Linked DNA regions of Homo sapiens: region 1 is linked to region 2. The links come from fine-mapping of genetic effects on gene expression. A gene starts in region 2. The other region holds a variant in brackets. All regions are shown on one strand. Distances are between the middles of the regions. Region 1 overlaps BGN (biglycan). Region 2 holds the start of HAUS7 (HAUS augmin like complex subunit 7).

Evidence for each region.
Region 1: its variant is fine-mapped to the expression of HAUS7 in unexposed skin (GTEx, PIP above 0.99).

What each region holds. Positions count from the first base shown.
Region 1 is chrX:153,495,070-153,503,387 of GRCh38, forward strand. BGN (biglycan) reads left to right here. Exons shown (of 8, transcript NM_001711.6): 1 at 1-44. It also overlaps a transcript of HAUS7 not described here. Among named protein-coding and RNA genes, the nearest start is that of BGN, 4.2 kb to the left of the region's middle. The variant A/G (reference allele first, on the strand shown) is at 4,491.
Region 2 is chrX:153,465,734-153,474,002 of GRCh38, forward strand. It overlaps HAUS7 (HAUS augmin like complex subunit 7), which reads right to left and starts at 4,843. Exons shown (of 10, transcript NM_001385482.1): 1 at 4,717-4,843; 2 at 3,413-3,528. The coding sequence starts at 4,824. RefSeq lists enhancers at 4,135-4,314, 4,465-4,564, 5,078-5,372 and a silencer at 4,895-5,204.

The DNA of each region.
Region 1 (8,318 bases), 29 kb after region 2:
GCCCGCCAACTAGTCAGCCTGCGCCTGGCGCCTCCCCTCTCCAGGTAGGGCTGGCTTCAAGCTGCCTCCTCAGCAACCCAGAGATGCCCCTGGCTCTGCTGCCTCCGCTGTCCCAAGCCCTGGTCCTGCTGTCCCCAGTGCCGCGAGGGTGTCCACAGATTTCCCCGGTGCTCTCTGTAGGCTGCTGATCCACGCCCCTTCATCGCCACCCTGCGGCCCCCTTGGTCCCTGTCAGGCTTCTGCCTCGTCTCGCCGCCCTCCAGGCACCTTTCCCTCACCCCTTCCTCTCCCTCTCCCTTCTGACCTTGCTCTGCTTCATCCACCTCTTGTCTCTCTGCCTCCCGCTCGGGGTCCGTCTTCTTGGCTACCACCCTAGAGCGTGGCTGGGTGACTGGTACCCCAGCTTTGCCAATGGCCCTGTTTCATCATTGCAAGTCCCAGGCGCATGCTCCACTCCCTCAGCCTCGCTCTGCCCAGGCGCCTCCTTGCTCCAGGGCTTGGCGCCTGGCCCGGGTTGGGTCGGATCGGGGAGGACCGCCCAGCGCCCACCGAGCTCAGCACCCAGGAGCAGTCCTCCGCTGCACTGCCTGAGGCCAGTCCTTGGCATGGGCTGAAAGACTTAGTTTCCCAGGCACACCCCAGGCACCCTGCCCAGATGTTCCTCGCTCGCTCACCCCCAGGTTAATGCTCTGCCTCTACATCCTCTGTGAGAAGTCTGGGTCCTGGGAGCCCTGGCTGCAAGGGCCCTGACTGGGGGTGCCTGGGTGGCTCAGCCCTGTCTGTTTCCAGGACCCCCTTGGACTGGGACTCAGAATGGGTGTGGAGGGGAAGGAGAGAAAATCAGGCAACTGTGCCATGCTCCCCAGGGCGGACCTGGCTTGGGGTCCCAGAGGGGCCTGCCAAGGGACCCAGGAGAGGGAGCGAGAGAGTGCCCTGGAAGGCCCACGGAGGGGAGCGCCCCCTCACTGCTCCATGGGCGGGGCTGGGTGCCTGAGCGCCTGCTGAGCAGAGCAGGGGGCCCAGGGATCTGCAGGGCACAGGGTACATCAGTCTCCAGTGGTCTGTCTTGGTGGGCAGGCCTCTCTCCTGCTGTCCTGGCTGCCAGACTGCTCAGGTCCCATCCTCAGGGGGTCCTGTTTCTGGGCCCTCGCCCCTCCCTGGCCTGCCAGCTCTCTGCCCTATAGCAACTAATTGGAACTGAGACAAGCTGGAGATGCTCAGCCCCCCTGCCCCCGTGCCAGAAAGGCTCCCGGGGACCAGCGCCCAGGGGTGCGGGTGAGCACCTCCTGGTGACACCCAGCCGCCGGTGCCAGCCGCACCCCAGGAGAGCTGGTGTATGAGCATGGATGTCTTGGTGCGGAGCATGCCCATGTATGGCCACTGTGGGCCAGCATGGTGAGCCTTTGAGGGCAAGCCCGTGTGGGTATATTGAAAGGAAGATGCAGGGCTGCCTCCAAGCCACCAGGGCTGGGCGGTGGGAGCAGGTTGCGAGCCAGGGAGCAGAGAGGGCTCCCATGGCAAGCTGGCCAGCTGTGGGTGGCAGCCCTGGCCTCCCTGGCCCACCTTCAAGCCCCAAGGACCCGTACGGCAGTGGGCATTAACCCTACCAACGCATAGATGGGGAGTCTGGGAAAGGAAGGGGGGTGTTTCCAAGGCAAGAATGAGTTTCCTGTCTTTAGCAACATTCCAGAGTCACTCAAACAAAGCTATAGCGTGTCCCTTCCAGTGACAGCGCCAAGTCCCCAGAGGAGGGGTTTGTAATGAGTTCACACTTGACAGTTAGCACTCAGAGCCTTCAGCAAGGGCTTCTGAGTCCTTGCCACCCCGTATAGAGGTGGGATGAGGACCTCCCCACCTGCCGTCTCCTGTGCTTCCCGGGCCCACCCCCCACCCCCCACCCCCCAGCATCTCCAGCCTGCCCGGGAGTCACATGTCCTCGGCCCACAGAATCCCCAGCACACGCCCCACCCACAGGCCTAGCCCCAGCCCTGGGGTCCCTGGCACCCCACCTGCCAGGGCCCCTCCCCTGCCTTGCTCACCCCCCAACACCCCTGCTTGTCGGAAATGTCTTCCCATGCCCACCACGACCCCCTCCCACTCATCTGTGGGCCGGAGAGCTTGGTCCCTGCCGCACGTTGCCCCCCTAGCATCCAGGCCCACCACCGAGCCCCCGACAGGCCTGGGAGCCCCACTGGTGGGTGGGGACCCACCAGCTGGGGGTCTTGCTCACACCGAGGGGCTGGGGGTGGCGGTGGCTTTCCCAGGGCACCCTGCCTTGGGCTGCAGGCCGCTGGGTGGGCACCGGCTCCCTCGGAAGGCAGCGCAACCCGGGATCCTGCCGGCCCTGGCCCCCACCCTGCCGACCGGGCCTGGGGCGATCAGTGCCCCAGCTCCTGTCCTCTTCTGCTCAGATGCTGGGTTGGGAGATCAGGGGCCACAGCTCGGCCACTCAGAGCCCTTTCCGCAAGTCTTAGAGGGACCAGCTGTGGGGTGTGTGCAGAGGGGCTGCGCTGTGGGGAGGGCGCATGGCTCAGTCCTCCTGGCCTGAGGCCCGCCTAGCCTAAGTGGCCTCCAGGACCCATGGCCAGGCCCTTCTGCAGCCTTCCAGAAAGAACCAGCTTCCCAGGGTTCCCTGGGGAAGGCCTGGGGCCACCTCCTCTGGAGGGGTGGGGCCTGTGCTTCATTCCTCCTTCCCCAGGTCCCCTTCCAGGCCAGAAGATCCCCTCCACCACTTGAATCCCACAGCCAGAAGCCCCTTCTGGGACTCTAGACTCCTGGGAACCATCCCAGCTGCCCCCTTCGCTGTTTCGCTGTTTGCCTTCTTCCCCTGCCCCGTCATGGCTCTAGGTCAGAGCAGCCTCTGGGGTGGCTATGGAGGGGCCACCAGCCTTGGCTCTTCCGAGGACTGCAGAACCCTCCCACTCCCAGCTTCCCACCTGCGCAGCTCTGATCCCAGCCAGCCCAAGGGGCAGGGTCAGGTCCCGGCTCCCTGGCAGGCCTGGTGAAGGTGCTGCCCATTCCCATGAGGCTCATCTCTGAGGCTTAGGGGCCTGGGGCTCTAGCCAGCCTTCTTGCATGGAACTCTCCTGGTCCACTGCATCTTAAGCCTGAGCTCCACTTAAACACTGGCCTGAGATAAGCTGGAGGACCAGGGGCCCAACGGACTCTGTGGGCCTCTTGAACTTGCCTCTGCTGGCCATCCCAGTCCTGTTTGGTCCCTGAGGTGTTCAGATGGGCCAAGGGGAGCATGGCGGGCAGACTCCTGGGTGGCCAGAAGATTAGAAGGCAGCCCTGTCCCTGGAGGCAGGGGAAGTCTGGGAAGCCAGTGTGACTTCTATCCTCTGGAAGTCTGAGTCCCTGCTTGGCCTTGACTGCCATCCCATGGTTCTTGGAGGCTGCCCTCATGCAAAGAGACACACACCCATGGGAGCCCAGCAGTCCCAGGAGCCTGAAGCTAAGCAGGCTGTGGGCCACCCTGGCTGGCTGAAGGAGGCTAATCCCAGCCCAGCCTGAGCCCCCGGCAGAGAGCGGGTTGCGGCAGGGAGGGGCTGCAGGAAACCTTCCCCTCCCCTCCTGGCCTTGGTGGGCCTGTACCAGGGAGGGAGGGAGGCAGGGCCCCAGGCTCTGGGGGGCAGGCCGGGAACACCTTCCCTGGGGCCCTGAAGTGCTCGCCTGGGGAGACGATGGCTTTTCCAGGAGACTCCCTGCAGACAGAGGCAGAGGTGAGAGGCTGGGCGGGGGCTGCCCTGCTGGCTGTGTTGGGGCTGAGGAGGGGCTTCTGGATCTGTGGGCCATAGGGAGCTACTGATGGTCCTCAGAAGGGCCATGCTTCCAGGGGAGCCCCCTGCACAGCCCCGAGAGTGTGAAGCGTGTCAGCTTTGGGGCCTGTGGCACTGTGTGCATTGGGAGAGGGTGGGTCCAGACATGGGGGCAAGGACACAGACGGACAGACAGACAGTGTGTGCAGCCCCAGCTCTGCTGTTTCCTCACCGTGTGGCCTTGGGCAAGAGTTTGGGGCCAACTTCCTGAGCCTCAGTTTACCCCTTCATCAAGTTCTAAGAGCATTGCTTCCTTCTTATAGTCAACGGGGGACGGCAGGATGCTAAGTAAAGAAATCACATGAGTCCCCTGCTCTGCCTCTGAGAGGTGACAGCATCCTCCCTTTTCCTTGGAGACTCTAGCAGGAGGCCCCGGATCTCTTCGGAGAGTGGGAGGGGGCAGCAGTAGTCCGTGTGCAGAGGACCAGGAGCGCACAGTGGGAAGGGCTGAGTCCCGCACTCCGCCGACTGTGGGGACAGGCTGGACCTTGACATGGGCGCCACAGGCTGCAAAGGGCTGGCACAGAGAGGTGGGAGGTGGCTGGGCGCATCAAGGGAGAACTCCACCCTTGTCGCCACCCTGCCAGAAAACCTCTGGAAAGGATTTGAGCAGCAGATGAGCCGGGGTTTCCCAGCCCCTCCACACGTGGCTGCAAGGGGAGCAGACGCCCA[A/G]GCGTGGCTGCCTGAAGGGCATGCTCCGGCAACGGCAGGGGCTTGGAATGTGGCACAAGGTCCACCCCTCCCCACTCCAGCCCCCAGCCCCTCAGGCAGCCACTCCCACAGATGAACGCACACGCCGGGCTTTGGCAAGGCCAGGGAGGGTACACATCCCCTCTCTGGTTGATGCCCAAGTACAGGCTGGAGCCATCGGCGGGGAGGGACTGGTGGACTGGGGCCTGGGAGAGTGGCAGGGGGCAGGCCGGGTGTCAGCGGGGGCACAAGCACCAGGCTGCTGGTTGAAACTGGGCCCAAAAGGCTTTGGAGGCCAGAGGGGAGGGGAGGAAGGACACAGTCCCGGGGACCCCGCAGGGCTGCGTGGAAGGTGGCACATGTGTCAGAGTTCAGGTCGGGTTGCTCAGGGGGGCAGACGCCCAGGGCTGAGGCTGCGGAGACAGCATCCGGCGTCTGCCACTTGGCAGCTGTGAGCCACACCATCTGCAGGCGAGCTCCCAGGGCCCGCCAGACCTCAAGCCCTGCTCCCGCCGCCCTTGGCCTGGCCTGAATGCCTGGCACGGACCCTCCATGTTCTCAGAGGCTGCCAACGCATCTTGTTTGGCTGTGACCTCGAGCAATCCAGTGCAGAGGACTGCGCTAGCTTTCAGAGGGGCAGACAAGGAGGGCCCTATTGGGGTGGTGGCGGAGGCTCCAGGAAGCCCAGCCTCCTCCCTCACTCACACCTGCGGTCGCCAAACCTGGGGCTTATGCCATTGCCGCCCCTGTCCTTTGCTCTAAAGAGATGGTATCCAGGGAGCTCAGGGCACACTTTGGTGGGGCTTGAAACCCTCCCTGAAGTCCCTGAAGACACACCCAGAGAGGCCAATGAAGGGAAACTGAGGCCCAGAGGCCTCAGTTGTGGTGGTGGAGAGTTGAGGACTGGAGGGACTTGCTGTGGGTCTCACAGGATCTGACTATGGGGTATTCCTGCTTCCTGGGCTGGGGTCCCCGCCTGCCTTATCTATGTGTGGATATATGTGTATGTATGTGTATATGTATACATATGTATATGTGAATGTGTGTATGCATGTGTGTATAGATGTGTGCATGTATGTGTGTACATATGTGTATGCGTGTATACAGGTGTATATGTGCAGGTATGTATGTATGTATGTGTGCATGTATGCATGTGTGTGTGTGTGTACGTGTGTATAAATGTGTATGTGTGCGTGTGTGTGCATGTGTGTGCATGTGTGTATGTGTGCATGTGTGCATGTGTGTATACATGCATGCATGTGCGCATGTGGATGTACATGTGCATGTATGTGTATAGATGTGTGCATGAGTGTGTGTGCATCTGTGTATATATGTGTGTATATGTGTATCATATGTGTATGTGAATGTGTATACATGGGTATGCATGTGTGAGTGTCTAGGTGTGTGCATGTATATGTGTGTACATGTGTGTATAGGTGTGTGCACGTATATGTGTGGATGTGTGCATGTATGTGGATGCATGTGGATGTGTGTACATATGTGTTTTGTATAGGTGTGTGCATGTGTGTGTGCACGTGTGTACATATGTGTTTTGTATAGGTGTGTGCGTGTGCACGTGTGTGTATGTGAGCGTGTATGTGTGCATCTGTGTGTGTGTTTGTGTGTGTATGTGTGTACGTGTGTGTGTGTGCATGTTCTGGCAGGAGGGAGGGGCTTGGTGTGAGGTGGTGGGGAGAAGGCAGGGGCCAGGCTTTGGGAGGACAGCTGAGCCTATACTGCCAGGACCTCCCAAACTGCCACCCCCAGTCTTGGGCATTCAGGCTCTCACAGGCCCAGAGACATGGCTGGAGCCCTGTGGCTGAGGAGCACAGCTGAGAGCTCAGGCGGGGCCTGGAGGCGCCAAAGCTGAGTTCCAAGTCAGGCTGAGTGACTTGGGAGAAATCAGAGCCTCTCTCTCGGCCTTAGCTTTTGTGTCCATAAAATGGGGATACTCATCAGGCCAGCTCCAGGGGATCCTATCCTTCCCCCCAGGCTCCCCTGGCTCCCTCTGACTTCATGGGCCCCTTGCTGCCTCCTGTGGGCTCAGACACGGAGCCTGCCCCTTCCTCGGGAGAGGTCTCAGTTTTGTGCCAGTTCTTTGAGGGGAAATGAGGGATGTGCCGGGAAGCCTGCCCGGCCCCCGCCCCTCCAGCCTGCCCACTGCTTGGGCACAGCCATGAGCCATGGAAAACCAGCCAAACCTTGTCCTTCTGCCTCTGTCACGGGGCCCGGGTGTATGGGCCTTCCAGCCCTCAGCCTCCCTCCCCGCTCTGAGGGAACCTCTTCCCCTTGCCCCTTTCTCAGTCTCTTGGAGACCCCCCAGACATCCTACTGTATCAGGCAGCCTGCCTCCAGAGCCCTCGTTGCCCCACAGCTGGTCCCGGGAACCCGCCTGAGACCCCGATGGCCAGTCTTGCCGTGACTGGCCTGCCCTGTGCCTGTGCCCCCTGCCCTGGTGGAGGGCCCGATTCCCTAACAGGAGGGCCTGCAGGGAAGTCCCAGCTCCTGGGGAGACCCCTTGCCCCGGGGCAGGAGTCCCTGTAGAGTCCTCCTCCAGGCCAATGCGTGGGTCCTGGGGGGCTCCAAGCTGGCCATGGTCAGATGGTCCTCTGTCCCCTCGGCCTTCCCCAGCCCCTCCCCACAGCCTCCCGTAGGCCCAGCCGGACCACCCCAACCCTACCTGTCCAGGTGGACTGCCCACCCTGGAGCTTGCCAGGGCTCTGGCGGGGTGTCCCAGCCCTGACTCACTCTCCCTGGGAGGTAGCGGCTTTGGCAGGGGCATCGGCAAGGAGGGGCAGGGCAGTCTCCTCCCTCCCCCACTCCATCTTGCTCTCCTGCTTCCACCCTGCCCTTCCTGTTCTCTCCCACTGCTCCTCCTCCTCCTCCTCCTTCTGCCCCCGGGTGTCCACTGGCACTGGGAGAGGGTCCTACAGCGGCAGCAGGCATCGGAGGCCCTGCCCTGCCCTGGAGGAAGGGAAACACCATCCAGGTAGGTGAGTGTTGAGCCTTCTCCCTACTTGGGGGCCAAGACCCTCCGGGCGGTTCCCCTAGGTTCTGCTGGGCCGGCCTGAGGCTGGCAGGCCCTGGGCTGCAACTGTGGGATCTCAAGGCTCAAAAGAATGAGGGAGGCTCGGTGCTGCCCCAGCAGGGGCCTCCTGGTGACCCCAGGGGTCAGCATGAAGTCCAGCTCCACATGAGGGGGAAGCTGAGCTAAGCCTTGGGCTCCGACTCCCACTTTGCAGTGTGGCCCAGGGCCTGTGGGCTCAGGAGGGCTCCGGGGCTGGCTGCGGAAAGGCCACTCCACAGGCCTGGCAGCCGCTATAGCCACAGCCTCACCACAGGCCCCTCTGTCCACAGGTGTGGGAGGGCGCATGGGTGGCTTCTAGGGGGGATGCCAATGCAGGGGGGACGCGTGCCAGCAGATGCTCCCTGGAGCACCCGAGGAGCTGCATGGGGGCGACAGGACAGGCCTCCATCCCAACCCTCTCCTGGGCTTGTGCTCAGACCCAACCTGGCCCTGAAGTGGCCTCAGGCCCCCGGCCCGCTGGTAGCAAGGACTCCAAAGCGGCAGCCCCGGGCAGCCAGCCCAGCCCCCAGGGCAACTGGGGAAGCATCGGGCAGGGCGGGGCTGCTCATAGGGTGCTGGCCTGGGGGCAGAGCCCCCACCTCCCCACGGCCTCCTTAGACCCCTGCAACCAGCAGCTGGGCTTAGGGGGCTCACCTCGCTCTGCTGGAGCCCCAGACAGCCCCTCCCCAGCTAGTACTGGCCCTAAGTGAGGGTCTCCTGGGCGTGCGACTGCTTCAGGTCTG
Region 2 (8,269 bases):
GACATGCACCACAGGTGACACACGGCTCAGCCCTCCACTGGGTCTCCTCCTTCAGGGGAGCACAGCCCAAGCACTGCATCCCCAGTCCCAAGCCCCATGCCTCAAGCCCGGTATGACACTGAGGCCCAGAAACATCACTCCGGCCGCTGGGGCCACAGGCTCTTACCCGGGAGCCCCAGGCACCTGCCACCACAGCAGCCTTTCATAAACAAGAAGGAGTCGCTTTCCACCAGGCTGCCAGAGCCTGGCTACACCTCACCATTGCCATCACTCTAGGAGCCTGCTGACTCGTGTGGTGGGAAAGGGCTGGTGGCTGTTCCCTGGAGAGGCCACACTTGCCCCAGAACTGCAACAGAGATCGGGCTGGGCTTGGCTGCCTCCACAGCACCACCCACCTCTGTGACTTATTAAGACAACCGTGGGTTCTGCGCAAGCGGGGTTGGGGAAGGAAGGGGGAGGCCAGCAGGCTGGGCTCTGCCAGCGGGGTTGCCGAGAACATCTCTGAGCACAAGGCTCGGAGGAGCAGAGGGCACTCACCCAGCACTGTGCAAGGGCGGGCACAGTAAACCCTGAACACACTCAAAACCCACGCTGCAGAAGCCCCAGTAGCCAGACTCAGTAAGGGCTGTCACTCAAGTCACCGCACCGTCACAGCAGAGGGCAGAGCAGGAACAGAAAATGCTGGAGGCCTTGGAGGCCCCAAGGAAAGCCACAGGGCCTTGACCTCCACAATCCAGGGGGCTCCATGAGCTCTGCCCCAACCCACACCAAGGACCAACACTAGGTGCAGCTTCCAGGTTCTACTGGGAGGAGATGAAAAGGCGGCCCTAAATGGGGCTGACAGGGTGCGGTCACGTACAAAGAAAGGCAATGGGAAATTCACAGGAAAACTCCCATCCATCTGATTCTCCTGTAGGACCCTCAAAAGGCCTAAGGAATTCTCGCCAACCTGAAATCAGACAACGTCATCGTATGCTCCCTGGCAGCTTTTTCAAAGGATTCGGTTTCTGGTATTTACAGAAGTACTACAGGTTGAATATCCCTAATCTGAAAACCTGAAATGCTCCAAAATCCTAAACTTTCTGATCGCCGATATGACGCTCAAAGGAGATGCTCACTGGAGCATTTGAGATTTCGGATTTTCAGATTAGGGACACTCGACCAGTATAATGCATATATTCCAAAATCCGAAGAAATCGAAATCTGAAACACTTCTGGCCCCCAGACATTTTGGATATGGGACACTCAACCTGTAGAAGCATCTGAGGGGCGTGGCTTTGGCCTCCTACCCGTCCCTCTCTGGCCAGATGACCCCAGTTCCCCAAGTGCCCCCAGCTTCCACCTGAGTCAGGCAAATCTGCGCCCCCTCCCACAAGAGCCTCCTCCTGGGAGCTCGCTCAAGACCCTCACACTCCACCCAGCCATCTCCAGTCCTGCCTCACCTCCCAGCCTCCCAGGTTCCCAGGCCAGGGGCTGGTCCCTCCAGGGCCAGTAGTGGCTGCCAGACAAGCCATCTGCCACTCAGCGCAGGGCTCCTTCTGTCTTTCCCTGGGGTATTGGTCTCCCTGCCTGCAGCCATTGCCCTCCAAATCCATCTGCCACAGAGCACCCTGAGTCACCTTACCAAAATGCCAATCTCAGCACGTCGCTCCCCAGGTTCCACGCCTGCCCTGCCCAGAACATAAAGCTCAAAGGCCTTGGCACAGCATGCAAGGCCCTGAGGGAGCTGCCCTGAGCTGCCATTCCAGCTGCTGCTGCCCAGCTCTCTCTCCCACACCTCAACTCCCTGCTCCTGTCCAAACGAGCACCCCGCTGTTACCGTCCCCATCCCAGATCAAATGCCACCTCCTCCCTGCCAACATCCACAGCACCCAACTCAGACTGCAGTGCTGTGCATCATTTCTGCTGAACCCCAGGACTTGTACCCACTAAATACCCAGCTCCTGAGGACACCCAGTCACGTCTGCAGCGCGTGGAATGGCACACAGGTGCAGCCTGGAGAACCCCCCGACTGCACGGCCACACCATGCTGCGGCTCCCATACTAAAGAGCCGGAAATGACAGCAGGCCAAGAGTGCACCCACAGGTTGAGGGCTCCAGCAGGGGCAGGGTGTGCTCAAAGGCTGTGGGCATCCAGAGGGAAGCGGAATACATTCTGCCCTGGGAACAGGAAACATTTTAAAAGGAGACAGGACGTGTGAGTTGGGTCTTTGCGGGCTGTACAGGAGGACGTACGACATGCAGAGACTAGAAGGCCATTTCCAGGAGGGGGAACAATGTGAGCAAGAGCAAAAGGTTATGAAGCGAGGAGCTGCTGTGCTGAGCCCTGGGGAGAGGCCTGAGGAAGGGCCTAGAAGGCAGAGGCAGGAGACGCCTCTGGAACAGCAAGGGCTCAAACACAAAAACGCCTCCTCCTTCCTCTGGGGGCCTGTATCCAGCTGGGCGTCCTGCTGATGTCTCTGGTCCTGGCGGGCCAGACCGGCTGGATGCAGGTTGGCTCCCCACTGCTCTACTGCCAGGCTCCCGCCCAGGCCCCTTCCTCAAGCAGCAAGGGTAGGCAGGCCGCAGGCTGAGGAGGGGGAGGCCCGGGCCTGGACTCACGAGAGGCTCCTGTACCAACAGACTACAGCTGTTCCTGAGCATGGCCTGGGCACACACCCAATCCCACAGGAGCCTGTGCTCTGTGGGAGGCGGGGAAAGCCTTCTCCACTCACAGCTGTGAGGCAGTGAGACAGACCCTCAGCTCAGGGACTACGTCACCAGGGGAAGGATGTCTGCCCTGGGAATGGGACACTCTGGATCATTTCCTCCACCATCACTCAGGAAGTCACCCTGTCACCATGGGCTTCATAGGGTGCCAGGCACACACCATGCTACACCCTGGCCCAAAGGCACCAGAGGACTGGGAAACGGGTCACGGCACAGAAGCTGACAAGAGGTGACACTGCATGAGGACCACTTGGCCAGCTGAGACCCAGCCAGGAGCCCACGCCCTGGCCCTGCCTGTCACTCCTCCACTGGGAGACCAGAGACTGTTCATGCCTCCAGCCTGACCCTTGGCTTCCGGGTCTGAGAAGGAAAGGACTGGAATGGAGCATTTCTCAGGTGCCTGCCAGTCCTGAACCTCCAAACTCATAAGGCAAGGCAAACGCTGAGGGCAAGTTCAGCACTGCAGCAAAGGGGTGGCTGGACTAGCCCAGCACCGCCAGGGGCCACTTTGCCCCAAGTTTGATCATGCCTGTCACCAGTACTCCTTACCTACACAGCTGTTCTCACGAGGGTCCAGGCTAGGGGGTGGAGCCCTCTGGGAAGACAGCTACTCACAGTAACCACAAACCCCATCTTCCCCAGGTGGGGCTGGCTGGCGCCCATGCACACCCCAGGTGGGAAGAGGAAGAAACTGATGCATTACCGGGTACACATCCACTCTAGGATCTCCAAGCGGTACTCTGAGGGGCTGCACAGCAGTTCCTGAATTGTCTTTGGCTCTGTGATATACAGACCCTCGAGGAAGGGGCAGTTTAGGTCCTAAGCAAGGAAAAGGAAAGCAACATTCACTGAAAGTCCCAGTGTACATCATTTCATTTTATTTATTTATTTATTTTTGAGACGGAGTCTCACTCTGTCGCCCAGCCTGGATGGAGTGCAGTGGCATGATCTCGGCTCACTGCAGCCTCCACCTCCTGGGTTCCAGCAATTCTCCTGCCTCAGCTCCCAGGGTAGCTGGGGGATTACAGGCATGCGCCACCACGCCCGGACAATTTTTGTATTTTTAATAGAGACGGAGTTTCACCATGTTGGCCAGGCTGGTGTCAAACTCCTGACCTCAGGTATCTGCCCACCTCAGCCTCCCAAAGTGGTGGGATTACAGGCGTGGGCCGCCGCGCCCAGTCCTCAGTGTACATCTGCAAGCTCCCAGGACCCTTTCCTTTACCCGCGTCCTGCCATCTTGCCAAGAGTTCAAGTCCCCCCATTCTTAACCCCACATCTCCCGCGGCATGCAGACCCCACCTCTTTCAAGTACTCCCACTCTGGGCTCTTGTGGCAGCAGGACCTAGGAGCAACGCCTGAGACTAAGACTTAAGAGAGAGTCCTAGGTTTCGGGACTGAGGGAAAGGGGAGAGGGAAAGGGAGAGGGACCACTGAGCCAGTCGCGGACAGGATGGGGGAGTGTCTGGGGGGAGGAGCGAGCGGGCCGAGGGGACCTGGGACAGCTCCCTAACCTCGTGGGCCAGCTTTCCTCACTGCTGCAGTGAGGGCTCTGTCCTGTGGGGCTGTAGAGGGCTTCTGGAGGCTATCACCCCTGGCATCTGACACCAACTGACACCAAGCCCTAGTCTCGCTGACTTGACAGAGTGGCACGAGGCTCTGCCCATCTGTCCCCCCAGACCCCGCAAGATCCCTAAGGCCAGGCCTGGGTCCTCTGTGTCTGCACTTGCTCCGAGCGCCCAGCGCGGGTACTGCAGTTCCACAGGCGGTGCTGGCCCCAACTACCAGGCACGGGCCGTGGAGACAGCAAGAACGAAGGCCTGGGGCACACCAAAGGGCAAAGATGAATGATCCACAAGCACCCCCTGCTGCAAGGGAACAGGGCGCAGCCGGAACCGGCGACGGTGGCCGCGTGGCGCCGCGGACTTCCGCAGCAAGCCCTCCCGGGCCTCGGGCGGGGCCCTCCCCGGTCCCCCGCCCTGGAGTGGCTTTCTGGGCCAACAGCACCTTCAGCTTCCCGAACACCTCCACAGCCGCCCTGGACACGCTGCTGTCGCCCTCGTCCTCTGAGTAGTCGTCGCCGCCACGGCCGCAGCCAGCGTCCTGCCCCGCCATGTTTCGCGCTCCGAGCCGCGCCCCGCCCATGCCCTGGCTTCACTGGCCGGCAAGACCGCCAATCAACCTCCAGCGTTCTTCCCGCCCACCCGCCTGCGCCCACCCCCTTCCCGACCGACCCTTCCCATTGGGCGACATCTCCGCCTGCGCGGGCCCCGGGCTCCCACCCCCCGCCCCGGCACCACCCAGAGGCAGGACCACAGTGAAGCGGGCAGGGCGGACACAGGGAAGGGGGCGGGGCGGACACAGGGAAGGGGGCGGGGCGGACACCGGGAAGGAGGCGGGGCGGACACCGGGAAAGGGGCGGGGCGGACACCGGGAAGGGGCGGGGCGAACGGGCCAAGCTGGCTCTGAGTCGCAGGCCTTGCTGGCGTCGCCCCTGCTGCCGGCCGGGAATGATGATGCGTTGAAGCGAGGCTCTTCCAGGAGGGGGCGCTCCTGCCTTGGTCGGGTTCTCCTGGGCCACCACCACTAAGGGGCACCCTGGTTCCCAGGAGGACCAAGGGGAGCCTTGGGTGCAGAATGGAACTCGGACTGAAGCGTTCCTCTCCCAGCGCGGGGCTCCGTCTTCTCTTCACCATGCTCACGCTGTAGTTAGAAGGAAATTTCTTGTCACTCACCAGCTGTGTGCCTTTGAACCAGTTACCTAACCTCTCTGTGCCTCTTTGCCCTCACCTAATGGAGCTAATGAGAGCACCTTACCCACTGGGTTGCTAATGAGGATGGCAGGCGGTAATAATTCCTGTGGAATCCCTAGAACAGTGCCCGGCGCATGCGAAGAACCACGTAAATGCTCACTATTGTAATACATGCTGGGCCCTGCTCCCCTCACGGCTCCTGGGGCTACCTGTGGCTCCTTCCTATCCTGTCTACTTAACAAATTTTTCTACATCCCTCAGGACCCTCAAACTCAATGCGTCTGCAATGAAATATGTCAGTCGCTCCTCCCCCAGACCTGCAAAGCCCCCAGTTCACTGAATGCCCCTTACCCAGGGACCTGCTGATTGGGCAAGGCAGGAAGGAGTTGGAGGGTGGCTTGTGCCCAGTAGCCAGGAGACAGCAGCAGGCAGCTGCCACTGTGCCCTCCTCTGTGCCCTACCCTGCCATCTCCTGGAGGGTGGGATCAGGGGGCAAGTCTATAGTCAGGGAGACCCAGGGACCTGCTGGGAGGCAACTGCAGTCATCCAAGTGACAGGAGGGGACTTCACTCCGTCCTGGGAGGAGGGAGCGGGCAGGAGTCCGGGGGTCACAGGAAGGGACCTCAGCCTGGGAGGCCCCGACACAGGCCCAGCGAAGTGCCTCAAGGTTGCTCTCTACCCTTCCACGTGGCTGCTGCCTCAGGCCCTTCTGGTAGCTGAGGGCTGTCAAAGGCTTTGGGATTTTTTTTTAAGCGTTTTTTTCCCTCTTTTTTGTTTTTGTTTTTCTTTCTTTCTTTTTAGAAAATTTCATCTCAATCACAGCCCCAGCTCAGACATTCAAATTCTTGTGGGTTTTTCTGTGGATCTTTCCTAGGACTGGGGAATTTGGCGGAAGAAACCACGGCAGTGTGGCAGCCTCCCCCAACCCTCCCCATATTCTCTGCTCCTGAGGACCGGGAAGAAACCAGCTCCTGTGTACTCTGGAAGAAAATCTCCCTCCTCCACCCAGCTCCACGGAGCCAGTGTGCTCAACAGGCCTCCCCAACCTCAGCAGTTCAGTCTATGGGACCCTGAGGAACTGGCAGGGCCTTGAGAGGCGAAGATCATCTTGAGAGGTTATGGAGGCCATCCCCCTCATGGAGAACCTGTTGGCCAGCCCTCAGCCCCTGGAGATGGTCGCTGAAGACCCAGCAGCAGGCTGCAGCTTCCCTGCCCACGCCACCCCACCACCCACCACCCACCACCCACCACCTGCCACCCACCACCCGCCCCCAGAATCATAGCACCTCCCAGGCATCTTCCTCCGGAAAAGCTGGAGGCTGGGGAGGGAACAGAGAGGCTGCTGGGCCTCTCAGGAAGGGGGAAAGAAGGGGCCCAGAGGTAGAAGCTTCTGGAAATGTGGACTCAAGCTCAGTCCAAGAAAGCACTCCTCCCAGAAATCACTGTCTGAACACCAGCTGGCTGCCAGGAGAGGAAGGGAGCTCCCGGTCCTAGAAGGTCTACAAGCCCAGGGAGGTGGGTGGGCGGGGATGTGGAGGGTTGAGTCCTACCATGGGGGAGGGAGGGGGCACATCTCTAAGGGACATTCCAACCCAGAGACCCCAGGTTCTCTGAGGGAGGCCTGGGTGGGTCAGGAGCCAAAAATGTGGCTGAAGGACCCATTGACCTGGAGGAGGGATGTTGGGGGGAAGCTGTGGATGTGGCGGGGAAGCTGGGGGGTCCTGGTCATGGAGGAAAGTTGGCCATGCGTCCCAGCAGGGCCTCAGCCGTGTCAGTGCTTGGAAAACACGTTGGAAAATGAGACTGGTTCACGGCACTGGCCCCGCTGTGCCAGAGATGGGCTGGCGGGTGCTGGTGGCATTCGAGACCTCTCAGTTTGTGTGGTGGGCCCAGAGATATATGGCCAAACAGTTGAGCTCACCAAGTGGGCAGCCTCCCTGACCTGTGGAGGGTATTGAAAAAGTCCTCAGAGCATCCGGGCCCTGCTCTTCATATGACCTTAAGGGCAGACCCCACGGTGCAGCGGGAATCAACCAGGGACCCCCCAATCCCCCAAAGACACCGCGAATCAAAGGAAGCTGAAGTCCAAGGGCTTTCCTCTCTGCAGAGGCGGGTCTGCTTCTGGCAGGGGCTGGAGTTAGACCTGAGGGGGAGCCACCCCACCTGGGGGCGCCTAGGCCCTAGAATGCTGTCAGAGCTAAAGCCCTAGAAGGCCTTGCTCCACGGGGCCACTTCGACTCCCGGCCCTGAACCAGGGAACCTGGGGAGGAGCCTTTGAGGGACTGAAGTGTCCTCCATCACCCCCCACCCCTGGCCACTAAAGTTCCTCAGTAAGGGTGGAGAGTACCAAATGCAAGCTGTTGAAGACAAGGCAAGTGTGTGCGTGTGTGTGCGTGTGTGTGTTTTGGGGAGAGTTCAGGTCTAAGATGAGAAGCTGATCACACCCATGCGAGAAGCAAGTGGTGAGCCCTGGCATTGGGTTTGAGGGAGAAATGTGACAGAGTAATGAGGTCAGGCTCAGGACGGTCTGAGTGTGAGGCTCTCCGCAGGCAAGGCAAAGCCAGGGGGCTGCCTCTGCCTCCCCTCCCCTCCCTCCCCGTCCTGTCCTCCTCTCCCTCTTCCTTCTCCTCATCTCCTCCCTGTCTTCCTGGGACCTCTCTGCTGCTAAGCTGCCAGGCTGAGCTGTTGGTCACCCATCCACCCTGCATCCTGGCATGCAGGCTCAGTACCCAGGTCTTGCGGGCAGCCCACGCCATCTGCACCAGCCAGGAGCCCACCCGAAACCCAGCCCTATCCTTGCAGATGGG